Homo sapiens: one gene and its partner. The main gene of each other region encodes a partner of the protein of the gene in region 2 in a complex. Each region holds a gene or a part of one and is shown on either strand. Other genes may lie near its edges.

Region 1 (7,911 bases), on a different chromosome or scaffold from region 2:
TGATCTAGGAGTTGTTAGATTTTATTATTGGTCTTAAAAGATAAGCTTAGATGTGTTACTTTTTTTGGAGTTTTAGTTTACAGTGATTCATGAATCGGGCAGCTTCAGACCACAGGAGACATGAAGCAGGTAGAAGTTCAAGAAAGCAAGACAAGCAAAATATTTGATTGGTTAGAAGTTAATTGTGGTTTCTGATTAGTAAAGTTCCTAGTTAGAGGTTAGTTGGAGGTTTCTGATTAAGTTTCTTTTAATTGTGTTTTGGTTTGCCTAAGTAGGAACCCAGAATGCTGGAGCCGTCTCAGCCTAATGGTCTCAGCCTAATGGCTTTCTGATTAATTTTTTTAAAACAGTGTAGAAACTAAAGCTTTATAATGTTTACATAGGAAGATTTTTTTTTAATTTTTATTTTATAAAGCAGAGGAGTGAGTTAAGAATCATTTCAAAGAAAGAATTGGCCTTGGCTGGGTGCAGTGGCTCATGCCTGTAATCTTGGCACTTTGGTAGGCTCAGGTGGGAGGATCACTTGAGGCCAGGAGTTCGAGACCAGCCTGGCCAACATGGTGAAACCCCGTCTCCTAAAAATACAAAATTTAGCCAAGCATGGTGGCACACAGTTTTAATCCCAGCTACTTGGGAGGCTGAGGCAGGAGACTCGCTTGAACCCGGGAGGCAGAGGTTGCAGTGAGCCAAGATTGAGCCACTGCACTCCATCCTGGGCAACAGAGCCAGCAAAAAAAAAAAAAGAATTAGCATTAGACATTTAGTGCCTATGACATACAAAACTATGATGTACTTAGAAGATAGGGAGGAATCAAAGGGAATTTCAAACAGATTCCAGGCAAATGGTAAAATTACTCATCCATAAAGGTAAATGTTAAGGAAACAAAGTGAGATTTTTTTAAAAAGAGACAGGGTCTCACTGAAGTGCAATAGCTCAATCACAGCTCACAACTTTCTAGGCTCAAGTGATCCTCCCTCCTCAGCCATCCAAGTAGCTGGGACTACAGGTGTGCGCCACTATGCCTGGCTAATTTTTTATTTTTTTTTTTCAAGAGAAGGGGTTTCGCCTTGTTGCCCAGGCTGGTCTCAAACTCTTGGGCTCAAGCAGTCCACCTGCCTTGGCCTCCCAAAGTGTTGGGAGTTACAGGTGTGAGCCACCGTGCCTAGCCTGAAATGAGATCTTAAGGAAATAAAAAAGTTTCATTTTGGATATATTTTGGGGATATTTAAATAAAAAATTTTATAGATTTCTAACAAAAATATTAGTATTTTGAGGTGTAAGATGTAGAGGTTATTTCCTACTAACACTTGCCAACATTGACACATCTGCATGTCTAATAACACTTAATAGAGGAGGCCGAACTTCATAAGAGGTTAAAGCTTATACCATTGCATAGTAGCACAGAGTTCAAGTAGAATTTTCATTCCCAATCTAATTCTTCTTTTATTCTTTCCATTTGGGACCAGCTTATACTTGAATGCTAATTTTTTTGTTTCTTATCCACTTGAAATGACAAATGAAGGAAGATATGTGGACATATTTAGAATATTTTCTTGGTTATTTTAGGATAGTATTTAGTATTATGTATATACATTATAAGATATACATTGCTATGTAAGTATATACTATACATGTATAGTATATATCATAATACAGATACTGAAGTATACATTAGTGTATTTTATCTTCAAGGATCCTAATAATGTTATACTCAAAATTTATTCTCTAGATGTGAAATGTCATGGTTAGGTAGGGTACCAGATGTTGTTTCCAGATAGAAGTAAGCAGTATCATTTTAAACAAATATTGAAGTGTACCAAATTTCTCGCACAGTTTCTATAAATGAGAATGTATCCAAAAGACACCAAATCTCTCCTTTGGATGATTTCCTTTGATACTGCCTTGTGGCCACCTGAAAAATGGTAGTTACTTGTTGAGAATGTCAGATGTTATTTAAAAAAAAAAAAAGCTTGAAGCCCCCAAATCTGTAAAAAATTAGACTCTAAAACCTGAAGATATTTTTTTTTAGTGGCATTGTACAAGTAGTGATGCTTTAGGACTACACATTGTTTCATGTTGTGTAGGCTAGTCAGCTTTAATAGAAGTAGCCTTTAGGATCAAAACAACTTTTCTTCAACTTTGAATTTTGACTTAACTGGCTCAGATGAAAACTTAGAACTAAAGCTACTTAGAACTTCCTATTAGTGTTGGCCTGCACAGGATTGGGGTTCAGAAGCTAGGAATGAGAGAGTTTTCCAGACCCTGTTTGTTTATTTCTTAGTTAGAATCTGGCTAAGTTATCACTGTGCATGATGAATTTGTTTTTAAACATCGAGATACTAGGTCCTTTTTTCATTTTTGGAAGCAATCTGTGGTTTTGAATTTTAATGTTTGCAGTTTATCACTTTTTAAACTATACTACCATTGAAGTAATGAATACTCATACTTGGACATTCATTATCCAGTAAAGTGTTAGGTCTCATGCACCGATATGTTAAAATAGCTTCACATCTAATGTGTTATGGTGTTTGTATTTAAATGAGCGTATTTTTAAAATCATCTGTTACTCGGTTGGATTAGTTCCATAGGACAAAATACTGACTTAAAAAATCATTGAGCCTGCATGAGATTGGAATAATTAAGTGGTGGTTTCCTTATGAATATAATTCTTTTGAAAAATACATGAAACACATGAGTATTTCCCCAGTACGTATGGATCTCTTTTTCTTTACAAAGTAGTTGAAACATGGCTGGAAAAAAGCTTATTAACATGAATTGAGTAACTGTAAATGTAAACCTGTCCTATCGGATATAACTTACCTAGCATTAATGTCTACTTTTTCCCCCCCTTTTTTTGCCAACGTAAAGTGGCTAAAAGCCAAGGTAAGAGCCATTACTTATCATTTGATCCACAGTATTTCCTCTGTATTGATAGAGGCTGCAGAGCCACTAAAATTTGAAAACTCTTCTTATGTCTGTCTGCTTTTCCCTGTAGGATTTATGTAGATTATTTAATACTCAAGTTCAGTTCAAATAAGCAACATTTAGCTTGGCTGTGTTAATATATCAATGATATATTGACATCTGTGTTTATATAGGAACATTAATTTTGCTAACATTTATTGCTTTGCTCATTTTTCGATAGTTGCCTTGCTTTCATTGACTTACAATTAGGAGGTTTCCCAGACATCATATGTGACTTTGTTACTGAATTGTTAGGATGAAGATGATTTTTCAGATGCGTATTTGAGCAAATTGACAAGTAAGATCTATAGTTTGTGTTCATGCACACATTTCAAAAATTTTAGGAAACCCAGTGTTTGAATGCAGATAAGTTTGATCTCAGTGAACATGTTTAACAATAAAATAAGATATTAAATCCAGTCATCTCACCTGTATTTGGCTACAATGTGATATAAATGGCATAAAATAATAGGAAGACCAAGTGCAAGTGGTTCCTTGACTTTTTAAACTGTAGTACCAAAGTCTTTATTCAAACTGTCTGGGAATCCTTAATTCACATTCTGATATTTAAAAAAAATAATACATGGTGTTAAAACACCAGGAGAACAATTTGATATAAAAATAAAAGCATTTCTTTCTACATTTTAGCATGGAAATAACCAGCCTGCAAGAACTGGCACACTGTCGAGAACAAATCCTCCTACTCAGAAACCGCCAAGTCCTCCCATGTCAGGCCGGGGAACACTGGGGTAAGAATTCAACTACATTTTGCAAAAGAATTCATATGCTAAAGGAAAAGATGTTTCTGTGACTTAAGTAAGTGTATGGGATCCATGCCACACTACCCTCTCTATGTGACGCTACCTTTTACAAATTCATTTTAATTCCTATTTTCCTGAACAGAATCCCAAATGAATCTGCCAGCTTTGTAATATTCTCTATAATCTGTACTAGGAAAGTTTTTATGTATGTATAAATGGCATGATTTATTTTTTTGTCATCTAATTTTTAAAAAATATAAATCTGACTTGTTTGTTTTAAATGGAATGATTAGAGTATTCCAAATGGTGCCTTTGCATGTGTTTACAGTATCTATATTGTAGAACTTTGACTAGTGGTCTACTTTTGTGTAGTATGGCTTAGTCCACAGCTCTTCTGTTTCGCCTATTGGTGTCTGAGACTTAGGGACTCTTTACTTTAGGAAAGTATGCACTTTACTTGTAACTATGCTTCTGCTGGTAATCTTAGGCCTCTTCACACTAGAGTAGCTCCATGGGAAGGCCAGTTGGGCAAGTAGAAAAGATAACAGTGGCTTCTTCCTTCCTAGTTCTCAGTGTACTAAATATAGCGAATACTTGTCAAAGCATTATATTTCTTTAAGGTTGTTTTTCTTAATACTGGAAATATTATATTGGATTTCTTATTTTTTGGCAGAGGGGTTGTTCAACAATCAGTCTTCTTTTAAGAAGGTCTTAGTTTTCATTTTTATTCATTAAACCCTCTGCCCCTGAAAAAAAAAATGAAGTTATTAAACAGAATAGTCGAAATCATTTATTGAGAAAGTAATGATTAGAATGTATATCTCCATTTATTGCCATATTGAGATGGGAATAAATTGCAGCTTCCTATGTAAATAAATTTAGCTTCCTGTTTAAAGAACAGTGGCTTATGGGTGACTGTACTGAGAAAAATGTACATTTTAAAGTTTGCTATTATTGAGCATTTAAAAAATTATAACCATAATTTTTAGAAATAAGGTTAGGACTTTAAATTACCCTTTCCTATGTTTTTCCTAGGAAAAGGTAACAAATTTTAGTTTTCATGTTAAAGTAACAAAATTCATATATCCCAGTGAAGAATATTTTTTAAAATTACAAACTTTGTCATATATATTTTTAAATCCTGGTATACATGGTCACAAAGGGAGACTCACATATTTTTGGGAAAAATACAATTTTATCTTTTTTATTCATTATTCCTTTCTCCACTATGCTCCTTTAGACGGAATACTCCTTATAAAACCCTGGAACCTGTTAAACCCCCAACAGTTCCTAATGACTATATGACCAGTCCTGCTAGGCTTGGAAGTCAGCATAGTCCAGGCAGGACAGCATCTTTAAATCAGAGACCAAGGACACACAGGTAAGCCTTTAGGTTGAGTATCTCAACATCTCTAAAGTGGGTGTAACTGACTGGCGACAAACTCCTATGGAGGTGCTGAGTAAAGGTGAGGTGCCACTCTAATGCTAATATAAAATGTAAAAGTTGGGGGAATAATATTATATATGTTCCTGTAAGTTTGTGTTATAACTTCTGTTTTGTTTTGTTTTTTTAACTTTTTAAAACATCTATTTGTACTATTAATGGATTGTTTGTATTTCCTCCTTTTGATAGAGGTACAGACTCTATCAGACTCTACGGGTTAAGACTAAAGAATTTTTTTCTTTTTTTTTTTGTGACGGAGTTTTGCTCTCGTTGCCCAGGCTGGAGTGTAGTGGTGCGATCTCGGCTCACTGCAACCTCTGCCTCCCAGGTTCAAGCGATTTTCCTGCCTCAGCCTCCCAAGTAGCTGGGATTACAGGCCTGAGCCACCACGCCTGGCTAATTTTGAGTTGAGACGGGGTTTCTGCATGTTGGTCAGGCTGGTTTCCAACTCCCAACCTCAGGTGATCCTCCTGCCTCGGCCTCCCAAAGTGCTGGGATTACAGGTGTGAGCCACTGTGCCCAGCCCTAAGAATGTTTTAAAATGCTCTTTTAAAAAAATTCAAGGCAAACCACTCAAATACTTTTGGAGAAAAGATTAAATATCATAGGAATTATACAACGTGATTTAAACTTTCAGAGATTGAAGGAAAGAAGATTAAGCTTAAATCTGAGGGAGATTTTTTTAAGAGAATCAGTATACTAGAATATGTTGTTATAATAATAATATTATTATTATCTTTTTGGAGATGGAGTCTAGCTCTGTCACCCAGGCTGGAGTGCAGTGACGCGATCTCGGCTCACTGCAACTTCTACCACCCAGGCTTAAGCAATTCTCCTGCCTCAGCTTCCAGAGTAGCTGGGATTACAGGTGCATGCCACCACGCCTGGCTAATTTTTGTATTTTAGTAGAGATGAGGTTTCACCATGTTGCCCAGGCTGGTCTCTAACTCCTGACCTCAGGTGATCCACCCACCTCGGCCTCCCAAAGTGTTGGGATTACAGGCATGATCCACCGCTCCTGGCCTTGTATTTATTATTTTTAAATGTCCTAAAAGTCAATTACCCGGTGGGTTTTTAAAAATTTAGTTACAGAGCATAACAAGCATTCAGAAAAGTATCCACTTCAGTAAGTATACAGCTTGATGAATGGACACACACTCATATAACCATCACCCAGATCAGAAAATGGAACATTACCAGCAACCCAGAAGCCCCTCATGCTCCTTCCTGGTTATCGCCTCGACCTTCTTCCCCCAAAATATAGCCACTTCAATTTTTGAGTGCTTTATAAAACCAGATAAATTTATTATATAACCAAATTTGTTTTATTCTTCAGTTTTCTCTCTCACTTAATAACGTGGGCAGGGAACCTCTCTTTTGCCTTCACTCTTAGGTTGGTAAATGAGAGATAACTTATCAAAATGATTTATGGGAATTCCACTAAATAGGGTATATCAAGATGCGAGATGCTAGGTAAGCGGTATTTATTACTATTGGTGCTGTTAGTAAACAAATTGTTAAGTTGATATCTGCAGTTACTGTATCAGGTCAAGTTCTTTGAGGAACAAAATTGTTCTCTTTGTTGTTATTGAACTCTTGGATCAAAGTATAGTTTTTCTCTATAGTGGAAGCATAGTTTAATCATATTCAACAAGCAGTTATTAAGTGTTGTTTCATTAGATACTAGGCATTTGTCAATAGGGCATAGTTCTTTTTTCAAGAGCTCATTCTGTTAGAACAGGGATCAGCAAACTTTTTCTATAAAGGGCCAGATTGTCAATATTTTAGGATTCGTGGGCCATATATATGGTTTCTGATGCAATTACTCAGATCTGTCATTGTAGCACAAAAGCAGCCATTGACAATACGTAAATGAATGTGGCTGTGTTCCAGTAAAACTTTATTTATAGCACTGACATTCTAATTTCATATAATTTTAATGTGTTACAAAATATTATTCCTCTTGATTTTTTTAACTATTAAAAAATATAAAAAACATTCTTAACTCACAGGTAGTAAAAATCAGGCAATGGACCAGTTTTAGCCCACAGGCCATAATTTGCCAACCCCTTGTTGGAAAAAAGACAGTAATTGAAGAGGAGCATAATAAGAGCATAAATATTCATATGTCTATGATGCAGTGGTAGCACAAAGCTAAGTATTGATCACCTGGCTTGAGGGAGTTAGGGAGGTCTTCACATCTAAGCTATGTCTGTTTTATAAATGACTTTTTTCTTTTTCTTCCATTAACATATGATAATCTAATTATAGAATGATCATATTGCAGAAGAAAATAAAAATCTTATCCAGGCATTGCAAATCTTTGCCCTTTGAATTTCTGGGCTTATTGAGCAAATTATGTAGATTTTAAAACATAATATGGAGCCTAAGGCTGCATGTGCACAAATATATGTTTTTACACATGTACACACATTACTATAAACAACTGGATGGCACAAGATCTTATACCTTACTAGAAACAACTAGAGGGAGCCAGGTCCTAGAGCTAACAGGACAGTACATCCACAGGAAGTAGAATAGCGAGGAGTTGGTTAGAGTTTATCAGTAGCAACTATTCCAGAATGTCCACACTGAAACTTCACTATTGTCTTTCTTTGTCGTTATGCTTATTTTCCAGAAAATTTCCCTATGTTATCACCTTTCTTTGAGATGAGAGGAAGTTTCATATTAATTTTAGACTAGAACGGAGTACCCTTTTAATTTACTTCCACATCATTTGT
Region 2 (8,822 bases):
GTTACCCAGACTGGTCTCAAATTCCTGGGCTCAAGTGATCCTTCTGCCTCAGCCTCTCAAGGTGCTGGGATTACAGGTGTGAGCCATCGCACCTGGCCATGTTTGCTTTATTGATTTGAGTAGCTGCTGAGGTGGCGGGTGGGGAGACTAAGGAAAGGGTCAAGGATACTGTTTTCTATTTTCCTCAAGCCTCACCATAACCATATGAGTTATCTTGGCATTGACACTTAAAAGAGGTTATACTAGTAGCCACGAGCAGGTGCCAAAAGAGCTAGATGCGTGTGTGTGTGGTGGGGGTCTTGGGAGGGGTGGGGGTGATGGTCTGGGAAGGTTAACCAACAGGGGTCCCAGATAGAGGTCAGAGGAAGAGGCAGCAGTAAGAGCTACGGAACTGCCCCAGGCCCACTCTTTGGTGCTCAGGGGAACCTGGAGGTGGTGAAGACGCTAGAGGGGAAACCCTCCTTCCCCCAGCTTTGCACACAGCAGCCCCATCTGTAAACTGTTTTACAGACTAGGCTTTAGAATAAAGGTGCTAGTGCTAAAAGGAAAAAAAAAACAACAACACACACACACAACTTTTAAATACTTTTAAATATTGAAAACCACCTCCCCCATTTCCCTGACAAAGCCAAAACGGCGGCTGAGAAGGCTGCTTAAAATCACACAGCTACTGGATTGGGCGGCTGGGACCAGGAGCCCACTCCGACCAGTGAGTCTCGATGCTAGATTCCCACAGATGCTGTTATCAAACAGGGACCCTTCAGACTTCTGCCCCAAGAGGGGCTCACAGGTCAACTCCAGAGACCTTTCTCTAGTTCTGAAGATCTAGACTTCTGTGCAGAGCTGATGATTTTAGGTGATAAATGGAACACTGCATTATTTCACATGAATGAGGCTTAAAATTCTGCCTGACCTAGCTTGACTCCTACTGCTGCCTCATTTTGTCCCAAGTGGGTTTTTAAAATAAAGACATAGCAACAGTTGTATGATTTAAAATGCAACATAACTAGAGCATATTCAGATGCAAAGTAAGGTCTCTTCGAATTTAATTTTAGAGCTAAGATGCCTTACTTAGCAGAGGAAATTGAAATTAGCATCTCATTCCAGCAAAACATGTCTTCAAAAGCACTGAGCACAGATGAAGCAGAGCAAGAGCATCAGGAGACAGCGTGCCAAGTGTCACCAAACGCCGGTCGGCAGCGTGCCAAGTGTCACCGAACGCCGGTCGGCAGCGCGCCGAGTGTCACCAAATGCCCATCGGCCACCCACTGCCCCACACTGCTCCAGAAGCACACACTGGGCCATGCCTGCCTCTTCCGCTCGTCTTGCCAGCCTCTCCAGAGGCTAGCTTCTCCAGAAGCTCTCTACATCCAGAAAGAAAACCACCAGGGAGAGGATCTGGAAGCGCAGTGTGACCACGAGACACCCTGTGACTGTGCACGGGCCACGTCTGCACATTGCTGGGATGGTGCTCATGTGCTGGGGACCCCCGCTGGCGAGTGACCGGCACCGAGGACTGCAGCCCCAACGCCCAAGGTAGGCTGCAGAGGCCACCTGCCCCCTTGCCAAGATGCTCCCTGAGCCAGATGCCTGTGCTCTGTGAGCTAGGCCTACATCTTGTGCATGTCTGTCTTCCCAGGGGCTCGAAGGTCCTCTGTGACATCTGAGGACAGCCAGGGCACGAAGAGCCTGCTCTAGCTGTGCAAAGCCACGATATGCACTTATCTGCTGGCTCCCCTCACCTTATCCCTCGAAGCAGGTGCTCACACAGCCCTGACACTGAGACGTAGCTGCTGCCTACCAGAAGTGACGACTTCAGCAAACAAAGACGCACACCTGCTGTGCACAAGGCAGGCCACTGAGCTGGGTGCTCTCGGGAGGGCCCGCAGTGCGCGAGGTGGGTGCTCACCTCTTGTACGCTGAGTGGTCGTTCTTCACACTGCACTTCATGTTCTTCAGCTCGTCCAGCACAGCGAACATGTTGATGAATTTGCCCAGTGTGATCAGGTAGGCTTCTGACACGAAGTCCTTCCTCCTCTCGGCATGGCACAGGCGCCTCACTTCCCCGCAGAAACGCTCAATGGCATTTCTCTGTGCAGAGGAAGCAGGAGGGCAGAAAGCTGCAGGTCAGTGAGGAGCCAAGCCCATGTCCCTCCTTCAAGCACCTGCAGTCACTGCTCCTCGATGAGAAACGATCTGCCCAGTGAGGCTCCAGGCCGAAGTGTTTACAATGTGGGCAACCAGACCCCTTCCTGAAAGCAGCTCCCACTGCCTGCTCTGCACCATCATTACTTGACTTGCACTTTACCAACTACATCACTAAAGTAACAAAATCTTGCTGATTATTCCAGCAAAATTACTGAGCAAAATGCTCCAATAAAACGCCTGTAAAATTCAGATGTTCTAACTTTCAGAAGTGAAAACTGGGAGAGATTTTTTTCCTCTTGGTAACTTTCAAGGTAAAACAAAAATTCATCTCCCAGTTAGTTCCATCTCCTCCCTTTGCTGAAGGACATCATCATAAAAAATCTGGATGTTTCCAAAATACTTCTTTAAAAAGCAGCAAGCCCCTTCCATGTGGCTACTTCTTGCCTAACCAAGGCCAGGGCGAGGACCACCAGGAATGGACAGTCAGGGTGAGGCTAACAGCAAGAAAATACCTGAAAGAGCAGACGAAAACAAAAGTACAAATTGGCCAGGCGTGGTGGCTCACACCTGTAATCTCAGCATTTTGGGAGGCCAAGATGGGCAGATCATCTGAGGTCAGGAGTTCAAAACCAGCTTGGCCAACATGGTGAAACCCTGTCTCCACTAAAAATACAAAAATTAGCTGGGCGTGGTGGCGGGCACCTGTAATCCCAGCTACTCAGGAAGCTGAGGCAGGAGAATCGCTTGAACCTGGGAGGCAGAGGTTGCAGTGAGCCGAGATCATGCCATTGCACTCTAGCCAGGGCGACAAAGCAAGACTCTGTCTCAAAAAAAAAAAAAAAAAAAAAAAGTACAAACTGGCAAAAAGTCAAAGCATTGTACTTGAAACTGACAGAAAGCAGGCTCCATGAAGGAAACATAAAATCACTCTCAGAGAAGAGAAGTGAACCACAAAAGGAGCGTTGATTCCGAAAGGGCATGAGGAACTTTAGACTGTCAAAGGCTTGGTCCCTTTTGTCTCAGAAACTGGTTGCTTTAATTTGCAGGCACTCTGTTCAGGGTGTTCACAGTGACAGTGATGGGTAGGAAGGGGTCAGCAACCCACCCCTCGGTGTTACACCCCCCCCAGATTATTTGCCATTTTACCTGGAAGTACATGAAATTCATCAGTTTTGTGACCTCAGGCTCCAGAACCTCCACGGTTTTCTCGTAGATTTCCACTCTGTTAGGCTGCTCGTTACATTTCACCTGGGAATAAAGGAACAAGGATGACATAAGAGGCTTTGATCCAGCCAGAAGCAGCCGCTGGGCTTCTAGAGCTAGTGATCCCGCCCTGCTGTGGGGTGAGAACTGGGAGGAGAGTGGGCCAGGCATGGCAGGGGCAGGGGTGTGGTGTGGCAGGGGCCTGGCAGGGTGTGGCTGGAGGGGAAGAGCCAGGCGAGCGTGGCACCTGTGGGATGGCCCGGGAGCAGCTCCTCCAGGTGTACAGCATGACAGCATATTCTTGGCCCTCCTCCAGCATCTCGTTCTGCAATGGAACACAGGGCAAATCAAAGGCAGGCGGGGGAACTAGCATGAAAAGCAGATGCCAGTTGCTAAAATCCAGACAAAGCGCCACAAACTATCCTAAGCACTGTGGCCTGTGTGCCAAGAGACGGCTGCCAGAAGCTAGTGACACTGAGGTGCGGCGCTGGGGGCCACAATGACCACCCAAAACACCCCATGGCTTCTGCAGGCGAGAGGGGTGTCAGTGACACGCAGGCATCTCTGAGGGGTGCCACAGGCGTTACACCTTGGCTCCACCCAGCCCTCAACAACCTGCTGGCCATGAGACCTGCAGTTAGGAACACAGAGGAAGGGCTCAGGGCAGACGCCCTGCCCGGTGTGAGCACACACAGGATCCCCATGGCCTCCTCACTGGCTCACAGGGCCTCCCGGTCCCAGAGAGGACTAGAGGCAGGGCTGCCAGCCCCGGGTGTGCAGGAGGAAAAGTTAGGAGCACGCCCACAGCACTTAAAATCTAGGTAGAGAGTCCATGGGAAGAGGACTGTCATCACTGCTGTAAAACTGCTTTTGCTTTCCACTCTTTAACATCGTTTCCTTTGGAAAAAATCAAATAGATGCTCTTAAATCTAGCCTTTATTTAGTGAGACGTTCATCACAGTATTTTTTTTTTTTTTTGAGACGAGTCTTGCTCTGTCCCCCAGGCTGGAGTGCAGTGGCACGATCTCAGCTCACTGCAACCTCTGCCTCCCGGGTTCAAGCAATTCTCTTGCCTCAGCCTCCTGAGTAGCTGGGATTACAGGTGTGCGCACCACCATGCCTGGTTAATTTTTGTATTTTTTTTTTTTTGTAGAGACAGGGTTTCACCATGTTGGCCAGGCTGGTCTCGAACTCCTGACCCTAGGTGATCCGCCCACTTTGGCCTCCCAAAATGCTGGGATTACAGGCGTGGGCCACTGCGCCCAGCCTACAGCATTTTTTTATTACACGACATAAAAGAGGAAGTCAATGCGCAAAAATAGTTGAATTGTGGACATTTACAAAATGGTTTACGTAGCCATTAAGGATTGCTTTCTCTAGCACATTTTCATGGCATGAAAATATTCTTGTCCAGGTGCAGTGGCTCAGGCTGTAATCCCAGTACTTTGGGAGGCTGGGCAGGCGGATTCCTTGAGTCCAGGAATTCAAGACCAACCTGGGCAACATGGTGAGACCTCGCCTCTACAAAAAACACAAAAAAGTAGATGGGCATGGTGGTGTGTGCCTGTAGTCCCAGCTACTCAGGAGGCAGAGGTGGGAGGATTGCTTGAACCCGGGAGGTTGAGGCTGCAGTGAGCCCTAATCACACCACTGCACTCTAGCCTGGGCAACCTGAGTGAGACCATCTCAAAAAAAAAAAAGAAAGAAAGAAAACCTGTTGATGAGACCATTAAAATGCAGAACTAGCTAGGTGTGGTGGCTCATGCCTGTAATCCCAGCACTTTGGGAGGCTAAGGTGGGCAGATCACTTGAGGTCAGGAATTCGAGACCAGCCCGACCAACATGGTGAAACCCTGTCTCTACTAAAAATGCACAAATTAGCTGGGCGTAGTGGTGGGCGCCAGTAGTCCCAGCTACTCGGGAGGCTGAGGCACAAGAACTGCTTGAACCTGGGAGGCGGAGGTTGCAGTGAACCAAGATCGCGCCACTGTACTCCAGCCTGGGTGGCAGAGCAAGACTCTGTCTCAAAAAAAAAGCAGAACTATAATAACAATGCAATTCATTTATAAATCTAAATCTCATATGGGCACATACCTGGTGTGTGTGGGTGCAGATCTGGAGAGGGAATGAGCATTAACAGGGCAGGTGCACCCTTGAAACGCTGACAAAGGTTTTCTCTGGGCCAGAGACATTGAATTTTCAGAACCAGCATGTATTGTTTTTACACTAAGAAAAGCAAAGACTGTCTTAAAAATATAAGGCATTTCATTCATTTTCTTCTCTTTTTCCTCACTGCATAGTCTATTGGGATAATACCAAAAAGTATACATCTGTCCTTCAAACACGCCCTTCTCTGCAGAGAGAAACAAAGACACACCGCAACATTACCATGCTAGAGTGGACGGTGGCTTGTTCAATGTATCTTGCGATGCCAGTAACAAATGCATTTCTGTCTTCAAAGTTAGTGTTGAAATTTGGCTGAAGGAAAGGAAGAGAAAAACATCATGTGGGGTCGGAGCACAGGCTGTACGCCCTGCAGCTGCTGGGCACCCACCTGGTAGAGCAGCGAGGATGGCGGGGGCTCGATGCAGGGCTGCTGGTCGGGCAGGGGCAGCTCCTCCAGGAGGTCCACGTTGGACAGCGCGTCCTCCAGAGTCACCTGGGCCGCCATCCTGGGCTGGAACAACACATAAGGACCCCTGTTCTGTGAGGAGAAGGAGGGGACACCCAACAAGCTTCGAGGTTGGGTACCCAGGCCTCTAACCCCTTCCCGCTCTCCCGAGGGCACCGGACATGGCTGACAGGGGCATGATCAGTCCTTGGGAGTTGCGTGTCTCTCTCAGGGCACGTGGGCCAGCAGGCTGGGAGGCCCTGTGCAGCTTATCCTTCCACACTCGCTGAGAACAGGCTCTCCTGGCCTCCAGGAGGGTCACAGTATGGGGCACATGGTTCCTGCCATCCTTCCCACCATGGGGGCCGCCGTCCTGAGTTGCTGGTGCTGAGGACTCTCTCGAGGGTCTGACGACCCCCTCAAAGTGCTGGAGGGGCAGCACCTCTCCAATGCCACATCTGCCCAGCAGAGCCTCCCTAAATGCAGCCACCTCCCAGGTGGTGCCTCCAAACACACTAGGGCCTGACATGGAAAAGACGAGCGCCCTGCCGCCCAACACCAGCTGTCTAGCTGCACAGACAGGCTGAGATTGCAAGGAGTATGGGGCTGCCGCAGGGGACAGAAAGTGCCACACCGCAGCTGGAGCAGAGGTGCAGAAATGAAGGCAGACATCGTCTAAACACACCTTCAGAGCCAGCTCCAGGGAGAGGGGGCAATCTGCCTTCTGCTGAATCTGCTCCAGTCTCAAGGGTACTCAGGAGGAGCTCTGCCCTGGGATGGGACCAGGGGCAGCTGAGCCACATTCTATGAAGGAAAGAGCAGCAGGTGGCCTGGAGGAGACACTGAACAGAAGGAGCCCCAAATCCCTCCTCCAGCACTGGCGCAGGCATGGAGGTGCACAGTGGAACGGGTAGTCAGTCCCACTGCACTGGCTGAGGGTGGAGAAGGGAAGCTCTCCAGGGACCCAGGAAGCCCCAGTGGCAGTGTGGAGAGGAAGCAGCTCAGAAGAGCCAGCCGACAAAATTGCTCATGAGCTTCAAGCCCATCCTCAAGCTGCAGGGGTGTGGATCTGATCCTCTTCACACCCCAAACCCTGAGACCACAGCCAGACAGCCACCAGCGGCACACAGGGGGCAGGTCCAAGTGGCAGTGCAGGAGGCTGTGAAGCCAGAATTGACATGGAGCTGCCACCCACTGAAGGCAAGTCAGAACCACAGCCCAAGTCTCCTCAGGGTGTTTGCTTTCTAAAATAAAAATATCAACATCCTCCTAGGATTTTAACAAGACCCAGATCTCATATCATAACATCCAACCATCCACTTACAGCCCAGATTACTCAGCACACAAAGAACGAGGAACGTATGGGCTCCTACAGGAAAAGAGAATCAACAGATGCCAAAATAACACAGGTGCTGCAATTATCCACCCGACTTTAAAGCAACTACTGTGCTATGAAATGCTCTAACGATTGTAACACTCCCAAACTGAATGAAAAAATGGAAATCAGCAAAAGGCAAACAAAACAAGATATAAAGAAGAACCAAATGGAAATTTCAAAACTAAAAGACACACTACTGAAATGTAAAAAAAAAAAAAAACCTCAGGAAAGATTCAGTGAACTTGAAGATAGAGCAATGTTAAGTTTTCTAATCTGAATACCAGAGAGAAAAAAAGATTGAAAAAATTTTGGGGATCTTCAGGACAAGAGAGAAGGTCTAACATCTGTGCCATGAGAGTGCAAAAGGAAAAGGGGAAACCAAGCAGTGATGAAAAACAGCTGAAAAAAATGACAGAAAACACCCTAAATTTGGAGAAAGTCTTTTGTCTACAGATTCAAGAAGCTCTATGGATCCCAAACAAGACAAACAAGAAATCCACACCCAGACACATCACGGTCAAACTGCTGAACACTAAAGATAAAGGAAAACAGATCTTGAAAACAGCAGGAGAAATGACGCTCAGCAGAGCACAGAGCAACAGTGGGAGGGCCGCGGATTCCCCCCGGGGACCAGGCAGGCCGGAGGGCGGGCACAATGTGCCTAAGCCTAAAGCGGGGACCAGGCGGGCCGGAAGGCGGGCACAATGCGCCTAAGCCTAAAGCGGGGAGGTGCCAACTTGGGATCCTCCCTCAAGATGGGAACGTGTCTTCCAGGAAGGAAGGTGAAGCCAGGACGTGGGCAGAGGAGGAAAACAAAGAGCATGCTGGCCAGCGGTACAGGCTGACAGGAAGGGAGGTGGAAGGAGGCATGGGCTACGAACCACAAAGCAGAGGCAGTAGGCAGGCTAAGCGGCGAGGGCGCAGGACACACAACGACCCCACAGCTCTTCCAAAGTGCTTGGCGGTTAAAAGCAAAAATCAAAGTACTGTCTAATGGGCCTTTCAGTGTACATAAATGTAAATTACACAAATACATAACAAGTAAATTATAAAATATTTCTAGGTATATAATTGTATAAATCATATAAACAAGACAACTGTAATCTAAAAGGGGGAGGGGAAACCTGGATGGGGTAAGATTTCTATGTCCCACTAGAAGTAGTAAAAAGCAGACTTTTCAGATCCTCAGCAGAATATGAAATGTTAATAAGCATGGACTTCGAAATCCTTAGAGCAACCACCGAAGAAAGCTGTACAGCCAGGCGCTGCAGTCCCAGCTACTTGGGAGGCTGAGAAGGGAGGATCACTTGAGTCCAGGAGTTCAAGGCCTGTCTGGGCAACACAGTGAAATCCTGCCTCTTTTAAAAAAAGAAAAATTAACATACTTTTTAAAAAAGCTATCCAAAGCAAAATAGATAACATATAATTTAGAATAAATTAAAACAGAATACTATGTTTTTAAAAACCTAAAAGGAAATAGAG

What was found.
Region 1: CYFIP1 (region 2) and ABI1 share a complex: the UniProt entries of both Homo sapiens proteins name them as parts of the WAVE2 complex.

The regions. Positions count from the first base shown.
Region 1 is NC_000010.11:26,766,048-26,773,958, reverse strand, and holds part of ABI1 (abl interactor 1), read left to right. Parts: intron 1-2,869; coding exon 2,870-2,884; intron 2,885-3,613; coding exon 3,614-3,714; intron 3,715-4,966; coding exon 4,967-5,107; intron 5,108-7,911. UniProt on the Homo sapiens protein: May act in negative regulation of cell growth and transformation by interacting with nonreceptor tyrosine kinases ABL1 and/or ABL2. May play a role in regulation of EGF-induced Erk pathway activation. Involved in cytoskeletal reorganization and EGFR signaling.
Region 2 is NC_000015.10:22,941,264-22,950,085, forward strand, and holds part of CYFIP1 (cytoplasmic FMR1-interacting protein 1), read right to left. Parts: intron 6,767-8,822; exon of another isoform or gene 6,648-6,766; intron 6,056-6,647; exon of another isoform or gene 6,029-6,055; coding exon of another isoform or gene 6,023-6,028; coding exon 5,906-6,022; intron 5,830-5,905; coding exon 5,740-5,829; intron 3,677-5,739; coding exon 3,599-3,676; intron 3,397-3,598; coding exon 3,295-3,396; intron 2,092-3,294; coding exon 1,910-2,091; intron 1-1,909. UniProt on the Homo sapiens protein: Component of the CYFIP1-EIF4E-FMR1 complex which binds to the mRNA cap and mediates translational repression. In the CYFIP1-EIF4E-FMR1 complex this subunit is an adapter between EIF4E and FMR1.